Regions from separate parts of the Homo sapiens genome. Here regions 1 and 2 are each linked to region 3. Evidence: fine-mapped expression QTL. A gene starts in region 3. Each other region holds a variant in brackets. All regions are shown on one strand. Distances are between the middles of the regions.

Region 1 (2,763 bases), 47 kb before region 3:
CCTGTTTAGTTATAAACAAGTTAACAAAATTTAAGATACCAAATATTGAAACTTGGTACTCAAGTATTATTGTCAAACTGGTTTTGATTCAAATATATATACTCCCACCAGAAATACATTAAAATATCCACAATATATACCTTCATCAGCATTGGGCATTTTATTTCTTAGTCTCCTTTTTCAGGTAAAACTAAGAAAAATTATGTTAAAATACTGATAAATACACAATTATAATATTAGCATAAGTGGTAGTGCTGACATGTAAAGGACTAGAAAGGTCTCCCAGACAGAAGGGCCAGGATTTTACTATAAAAATAAAATTTACTTGGAACTATGTCTTAGGACCCTGCCAATTTCTTGCTGAGTTAAGACGTATGATTTACATAAATCCTGGTTACACTGAGGGGCAAAAGAGATAAGAAGTAGCCAGTTGTTAATGGGGAATATGTCAAGAGGAAGGAAAACAGAAGTAAAGGCTGTAAGAATACTTAAAATGCTTCCTTGTTTTTGAATTTTTAAAAATTTCCATTTCTAAACATAATTGATTTTACTAGAGCCCTGCTGCTGTCTTTGATTAAATGAGAAAAGATTAATTGCTAGACTCTGCACCCCACTAGATGCTTCCTGTAATATCCTGTTTTCTGTTAACTACTTAATCAATAATTTAATTAAAAATCAGTAGAATTACAAGTATGTAGGATAAAGTCACATGAGGTCCTGGAGGGGCTTTAAAATACTTTAGCAACAAAAAGAAAGAAAATAAGGGTAGCTAAAGCCCATATGACAAAATTCCAATAATTTTCAAATCTGGGTGGTACATGTATGAGGTTTCATTATGCTAGTCTTTCTGTAATACTTTTGTAAATGTTTAATATTTTTTGTAATATTTAAATCAGTAATATGATGAAGGCAATTTTGAGCTGTTTTTAAAAATAAAGTTTCTAAAACTAAAGTTTTCTATCAACAACATTATTTTTATATTACATCTTGATTTATCGATTTATGTAGAATAAATATAGATGAAAAAATATAGATGAGTTCTTGACATATAAAAAAAGTCTAACTATCCAAGGATGAAAAAATATGCATACGATAAAGATCAGATTCAAGAAATTTTAACATTAGATCTTAAGAAGTAACACCAACTTGCACTTCTTATTACAAGCAAAGAATCCAACGTGCCTTTGAATTGTTTCCAAGATTCTTCACTTGTTCTTTTCCATCTTCTGCCCCACTTTTCTTGGTCTTGTACCTCAGTCTTGGATTTAGGCTTAAACATCCTTTTTCTTCACTCTATTGTTCTCTTGTTGTTTTATTTGAATGGAAAAATGGAAAATAAGCTATGTAGGATTCAAGATAAAACAGCTCTTGCATCAAAAATATTCTTAGAAGAACTGGGACCAATACCAGGAATGGTGGTAACTAAAGAGAGAAGGGAAAAGAACTAACATGTTTTGATTGCCAAGGCAGTATCATGGACATATATGAATAGCAGGGTAAGACATTTTAAAATATTGATTAAAAGAAGCTTATTATTATTTTTCCTTTTTTTTTTTTTTTTTTTTTT[G/TG]GCAGTGTCTCAATCTATCGCCCAAGCTGGACTGCAGTGGTGCAATCATGGCCCACTGCAGCCACAACTTCCTGGGTTCAAGTGATCATCCCACCTCAGCCTCCTGAGTAGCTGAGACCACAGGTTCGCACCACCACGCCGACTAATTTTTTAATTTTTTTGTAGAGACAGGGTCTCATTATGTTGCCCAGGATGGTCTCAAACTCCCAAGCTCCAGCAATCCTCCCACCTTGGCCTTCCAAAGTGTTGGGATTACAGGCATGAGCCACTGCGCCCGGCCTATTATTTATTTCTTGAAGAGTCACTAGAGTGGCCCAATTCTTTATGCAAATGTAAGACAAGCAGGGTTCTTTGCCCTGTAATGAGGGTATAGCAAATATCTTCTATGACTCCATTGAGTCAGTCACTCACTGTGATTCTGGGAATGTGAGGCTGACTACTGGCACAAAGGTAGATCAATTTGCATGAGGAACCCAGGGCCTTCTGGGAAGGGAAAAAAATCCTAAATATTTTCTCTGGGATACACTACTCCCTCTTTCTCTGAGATGTGAAATTAGAGAATACTACTGAGCTAGAGAATGTAGGCTTTATTCATCCAAGAGCCAGTGGTAGGGACAGGCAGCATGTCTCCTGAGATTAATATAGAGAAAGGTGTTATCTGAACAGGTAACCCCAACCCTTGGCACTCAAATAATAAAATAATATAGAAGCAAGTAGAATAATAAATATACTTTTTTCCACGTAAAGAGTTAAATAATAAATATATTTGTACTTTTTTCCACATAAAGAGTTAGTTGAGGCCGAGCATGGGGGTTCATGCCTGTAATCCTAGCACTTCAGGAGGCTGAGGAGGGTAGATTGCTTGAGCCCAGGAGTTCAAGACCAGCCTGTACAACATAGGAGACCTTGTCTCTACAAAAGAAAAAAAATTTTATCCTTCCCAAGAACAAAACACAATTGTCACCTCACATTGGATTTTCCCCTCCCTAACCTTCCATTTCATGGAAATTTAGCTCTAAATTATTCTCTGTATGCCATACTTCTACTTCTTAGGAAAATTACCTATGTGTAAAATAGTGTTGTTTGCACTTAAAAAAATAATAATTTGGAGTTAGTAGAAGTGAATAAAGCAACAGGCATTCAAATCCCATACTGTCATACTGTCAGCTCCATGGCCAGACTTCCTCATCCTAAAT
Region 2 (2,763 bases), 34 kb after region 3:
TCTTTGGCTTTCCTATTCACTTGCGACTGCCATTAGTATGGTTTCTGTTTTGGGAAAAGCAAGAAGTATGAAGAATTCTCTCCATATGTGTTCAGATATGACTTAATTCTGCTAATCTGAACACTAGATTATGTCACTGACATGATCTACTTATATGATGTTTTATATTCCTTTCTTTAATATTCGTTTCTATCCCTTTGGTAAACCACCCTTAATAAATTATATGGCCTTTTTTTTTTTTTTTTCTTGAGGAAAGAGAAACTTTATTTGCCCAATCTCTTTTACGGATTATTCAAGTAGTAGTTGTCAAAATTGAAAGTGTTATTCTTTACTCCACAGAAGCATTGCTAGGTTTTCGGGAGATGAGAAATAGAGATAAAAGTTTTATTTAGATTTAAGTTCCACCTATGAATTTTTTGATGTAAAGTAAATAGATATTTAATTAATTAATTAGGAGAGAGCCTCTCTCTATGATGCCCAGGCTGGTTTCGAACTCCTGGGCTCAAGTGATCCTCCCATCTCAGCCTTTTAGAGTGCTGGGGTTAGAGGCATGAGCCACTGTGCTCAGCCAGATTTGTTTTTCAATAAGACTTTTATTTTACCTGTGAGAAAATATGGAAGTACTTTTTTAGTTCCTTCAGTCAAGAAACCTAGTGAACTTAGTTTAACCTAGTATTTCGCAAGTACATTTTACCATAGAACTTTCCTTTTAAAATACCTGTTAGTGAGGAACACATTTTGGGAAACATTGATATAAGGTAAACTCTTGAAGAATTTTGATCTTTTTAGAAGTGGGAGTAAAATTGTACAATAAACCATGGCAGAAATCTGTTATGGATTTTATATCTAGAAAGTTTAGTCTTTTGCAATAATAAAAAGAGTATTTGATTTAAAGAATAAACTATTTAAATAGCTCCTAAGAAAAATCCTATTTAAATCTCTTTTTAAAAGAATACTCCCATTGTGCTCTGATGATTTTTCAACTAACCTGTCTTTGAGCACACACTATTAAATATTTTTATGCTGCCTGCCCTTGGCTTATGTCAAAGCATCAGCATGTAACTTTATCTAGGTACCACAGGGAAAGCTACTTTAAATATGAAGACTTCTGGAGAAAATTTCTTCTGCAGTTCCTGAAATTCACATCTAGACATTGAAAG[C/T]GGGATGTGCTTGTGCTGATCTTAAGGAAGCTATTCTCTTTTTTTTTTTCATTGAGATGAAGTTCTGTTCTTCTTGCCCAGGGTGGAGGGCAATGGCATGATCTCAGCTCACTGCAACCTCCGCCTCCAGGGTTCAAGCAATTCTCCTGCCTCAGCCTCCTGAGTAGCTGGGATTACAGGCGTCCGCCACTACAACTGGCTAATTTTTGTATTTTTAGTAGAGACGGGGTTTCAGTATGTTGACCAGGCTGGTCTTGAACTCCTAACCTCAGGTGATCCACCTACCTCAGCCTCCCAAAGTGCTGGGATTACAGGCGTGAGCCACTGTGCCCGGCAGAAGCTATTCTTTTAAACAGAAGAAAAATCTATAAATTCATCAGGTGTAATAAAATCAAATCCTTAACTCTAAATGACAGTGAAACCAGATGATAAAGTTTGTTGCTTATAAAGAATCTAGGAATAAAAGGCCCTTTTGACTTCAGTTTTTCATATAAAAAATGGAGATAATAGTACTTCCCTCATATGGGAAAGGTTATACAGCACAAGCTACAGGGCCTGGCACATAGAAGTACTTGACAGTAGTTGCTAGTTATGGTGGTGATGATAGGTACTTAACAATCTGCTATAGATTTCAGCAGTAGCTCTTCTCATGAGAGAATTGTATGAAGACGGAGTTTTGGTTAAATAACAATGACATTTTTATTTATTATAGGTTAAATTTTGTGTTTTAGAGTGAATTGGTGTGCCGATTAGGTGAACTGGGGACATGTGAGGTGGAGAGTGGGTCGTGGCCTCAATGGGCAGCCATCGCCCTGTGTGTTTCTTTCTGACCAGCTCTAGTACAATGCTTGCCCTCGTTTCTTTATCCCAAACAAAGAACTTTGGGGAGAAGGGTAAAGAACCCTGAATTGAGAAGTCATTTAGGTTCATTTATTCATACTTATGTAAAATCTTATATGAAAATATTTTCTAATACATAATTTACCTATTTCTTTAGAAGGAAAAAGGAAGTACTATCTTCCATTTAGCTTACAAAAATGTTATTTTCAGTATCTCTTGTCTAGATATTTAAAAGATTTAAGGCTGGGCGCGGTGGCTCACGCCTGTAATCCCAGCACTTTGGGAGGCCGAGGCGGGTGGATCATGAGGTCAGGAGATCGAGACCATCCTGGCTAACAAGGTGAAACCCCGTCTCTACTAAAAAAATACAAAAAATTAGCCGGGCGCGGTGGCGGGCGCCTGTAGTCCCAGCTACTCGGGAGGCTGAGGCAGGAGAATGGCGTGAACCCGGGAAGCGGAGCTTGCAGTGAGCCGAGATTGCGCCACTGCAGTCCGCAGTCTGGCCTGGGCGACAGAGCGAGACTCCGTCTCAAAAAAAAAAAAAAAAGATTTAAGTATAAAGATTACATATAAAGTGATTTTTTATTCTGTGAGACCACCACATGCCTCAGATATTTTGAGGAAATATTAAAATTTAAGTGATCCTAACACTGAAAAAAAAATCTGAAAGACCTAACTACATTATTAATAATATAAGCTTACCTATACGTTTCTCATTTAAAACTCACATTTACAAAGTTCAAATGTACTTGCTCAGTGATTA
Region 3 (2,763 bases):
CTTTCCATGGTAGGAAGTCCTGAACTTCTGCTACTACTGTAGGTCTTATCTTTAGGCTTGTGGATGCTTAATAAGAACACTGAGATGATCTAAGAGTGCAGGACATTTAATTAAAAAAAAATTTTTTTTAAGAGACAGAGTTTTGCTCTGTTGCCCAGGTTGGGGTGCAGTGGTGAGATGGCAGCTCACTGCAGCCTCAAACTCCTGGGCTCAAGCAATTCTCCCAGATTCTCCCACCTCAGCTTCCTAGGTAGCTGAGACCACAGACGAGCCACCGGCCCAGCTAATTTTTGCATTTCTTGTAAAGAAGGGGTCTTACTGTGTTGCCTCGTCTCCATGAGGCTGGTCTCGAACTCCTGGACTCAATCGATCCTCCCACCTCAGCCTCCCACAGTGCTGGGATTACAAATCTGAGCCACCACACCTACCAGCAGAAACTTTTTTTCAAGAGGAGACTTTGGATTTCAAGGTGACCTCCCCCACCCCGCCCACAGTAATATCTGTGACCCAGTGCACAACACAAGTGCCTATGACTGAATAAAATATTTCACTAAATATTTATTTCACTATTCGAGATGTGCCTGGTATCTCTATTTCTTTCTTTCTTTTTTTTCTTTTTTTGGAGACAGAGGAGTGATCTCGGCTCACTGCAACCTCCGCCTCGCAGGTTCAAGCGATTTTCCTGCCTCAGCCTCCTGAGTAGCTGGAATTAGAGGCGCTCGCCACGACGCCCAGCTAATTTTTGTATTTTTAGTAGAGACGGGGTTTCGCCATGTTGTCCAGGCTGGTCTTGAACTCCTGACCTCAGGTGATCCGCCCGCCTCGGCCACCCAAAGTGCTGGGATTACAGACGTGAGCCACTGTGCCTGGCCATCTAACTCTATTTCACAGAAAACTGGAACCACCACACGCACCTGTACCCCTTCCAAGTAGAAACCAGCTAATTTGGTTTTACGAATCACTAAAGGCCGACTGAAAACGCTCTTCTAGCAGTCTTCGCTGCTACTCCATCTATCACAGCCCATCCGAAAAGCGGCGGTAGCAGCTGGGAAGGCCGCGGCCGGAGGCTGTCACAGAGCAGCACTCGCGCTTCGGCCCGCAAGATGGAGCGTTTCCCTCCAGGGAAGCAGCGCCGCACCTATCCACAGCCCCCACTCGGTGGATGATGCAGGACTCGGCCCATTTCCCTGCCCTCCAGCTTTCTCAACGTCAGCCCCGCCCCCTTATCTTTCCTCGGCGAGTTTAGTTTCGCCCCGCCAAGTGGGCAGAGCGCCGAACGATCGATGCTTTCTTCCGCGCCCCGAGAGCCGCCATTTTTGAGAGCGGGGGAGGAGAGACAAGCAGGGGCGGCAGAGGCTCAACGGGATGCTGACTGGGTTTTGCTTTTCGTCCCAGCCTTGTGGGGCCGGGACGGAAGAACCCATCAAAGCCCTTCCTCCCGCCGCCTCTCCGGAATGAGGTCTCAGCACCCGCGCGGGACAGCACCCTTCCTCCTGCGACAGTGAGTGGCGACCCGTGGCGCGACTGCCGGGCGCCCGCGCGCGCCCCCGCGCGCTCCTTCGCTGTCAGTTACCCCGCGCGCCTCCGCCCCTCTCCCGCCGGCCCCGCGCTCGGCGCAGACTCGTTTGTTTGTTTCTGCAGGAGCCCAAGAAGAGGCCGAAACCGAGACCATGCCAGGGAAGCTGAAGGTGAAAATCGTGGCCGGGCGCCATTTGCCAGTGATGGACCGTGCTAGTGACCTGACTGATGCCTTCGTGGAGGTTGGTGCAGGGTCCTGCCCCTCAAAACACAGGGAGCGCCAAGCCCTGTGAAGGATCTACCCACCTCGCCCCCAGCCCCTCAGCCTATTCCCCCCTCGACTGCCCTCCCTTCGGCCGTGGTTGTCCAGCTCTCCCACGAGGGATGACCGCCGAGACCTCAGTGTGTGCGATGGGTGCACGGCTTGCAGGCGTCCGCGGCACAGTCCGCTGCGCGGGGAGGCTTGTACTGTTGTGCATGCGGGGGTGACCCTGATGTCAGGACTCATTAACAGGCCACCTGCCACTCAGGAGATCCCAAGGCGTGGCCGCGCAGCCACCGACACACTCACACACATACACACACACACACACAAATGCCGGAATGACTCTGATGTCAGGACTCATTAACAGGCCACCTGCCACTCAGGAGATCCCAAGGTGTGGCCCCGCAGCCACTGAAACACACACACACACAGGCACACACACACCCTTGGAAGGGGTGGCCAGAGTGCTGGACATCATGTTTAAGAAGGTGCATGAAGCCCTTTATGGGCACTTGGAGTCCCACAGTGCGAGGAAATCCACTCTCATGCCTAACATTTTGTGAATCTGCCATGCACGTTCTAAAACACAACTGCAACACTTCCTGCTCTTGTATAGGCTGGTAGGTCTGATGAGGTGTTTCAGGGTAATTTAGCGCCTTGAGGTAGGAAGTCATTTAATTGCCATGGACTTAAATTGCAAAATTGCTTTTTAAGTCTAATGATTAGTTTAAAAGTCATGCAAATTAGTAAAGGCCTACGGCCGGAAGGTAATAACCCAGAGTCTGAAAGAAGCCAAGTAAAGATTGTAATAAAAATTGGCGTGATGAGCCAGAGCATTAGAGCAGCAATCATTTGGGCTATTAGTGCTTAGAATTGATGGATAGATATATCATAATATATAGCTCGATTTCATCTCAATATTCCTGATGTTTCCTAAATGTTCTCTAACCGAATAATTACAGTTCACTGCCTCCCCTGCC

Direction of the effects. Positions count from the first base shown, and alleles are read on the strand shown. Sizes are in standard deviations (SD) of each study's normalised expression.
In carriers of allele G in region 1, the expression in lymphoblastoid cells of the gene that starts at base 1,279 in region 3 tends to be lower than with TG alone (large effect, 0.94 SD a copy in GENCORD).
In carriers of allele T in region 2, the expression in lymphoblastoid cells of the gene that starts at base 1,279 in region 3 tends to be higher than with C alone (large effect, 0.85 SD a copy in GEUVADIS).

What was found. PIP is the estimated chance that this variant, and not a neighbour inherited with it, causes the effect.
Region 1: its variant is the best candidate, but not a certain one, in a credible set for the expression of C2CD5 in lymphoblastoid cells (GENCORD, PIP 0.64).
Region 2: its variant is the best candidate, but not a certain one, in a credible set for the expression of C2CD5 in lymphoblastoid cells (GEUVADIS, PIP 0.52).

Annotation. Positions count from the first base shown.
Region 1 is chr12:22,589,734-22,592,496 of GRCh38, reverse strand. It overlaps C2CD5-AS1 (C2CD5 antisense RNA 1), which reads right to left. Exons shown (of 3, transcript XR_001749044.2): 3 at 1,100-1,422. It overlaps ETNK1-DT (ETNK1 divergent transcript), which reads left to right. Exons shown (of 4, transcript NR_135030.1): 3 at 1,573-1,690. Among named protein-coding and RNA genes, the nearest start is that of C2CD5-AS1, 13 kb to the right of the region's middle. The variant G/TG (reference allele first, on the strand shown) is at 1,568.
Region 2 is chr12:22,508,656-22,511,418 of GRCh38, reverse strand. All of the region lies in intron 9 of C2CD5 (C2 calcium dependent domain containing 5), which reads left to right. Among named protein-coding and RNA genes, the nearest start is that of C2CD5, 35 kb to the left of the region's middle. The variant C/T (reference allele first, on the strand shown) is at 1,161.
Region 3 is chr12:22,543,058-22,545,820 of GRCh38, reverse strand. It overlaps C2CD5 (C2 calcium dependent domain containing 5), which reads left to right and starts at 1,279. Exons shown (of 27, transcript NM_001286176.2): 1 at 1,279-1,501; 2 at 1,642-1,760. The coding sequence starts at 1,671. RefSeq lists enhancers at 1,149-1,378, 2,519-2,763 and a silencer at 1,519-1,638.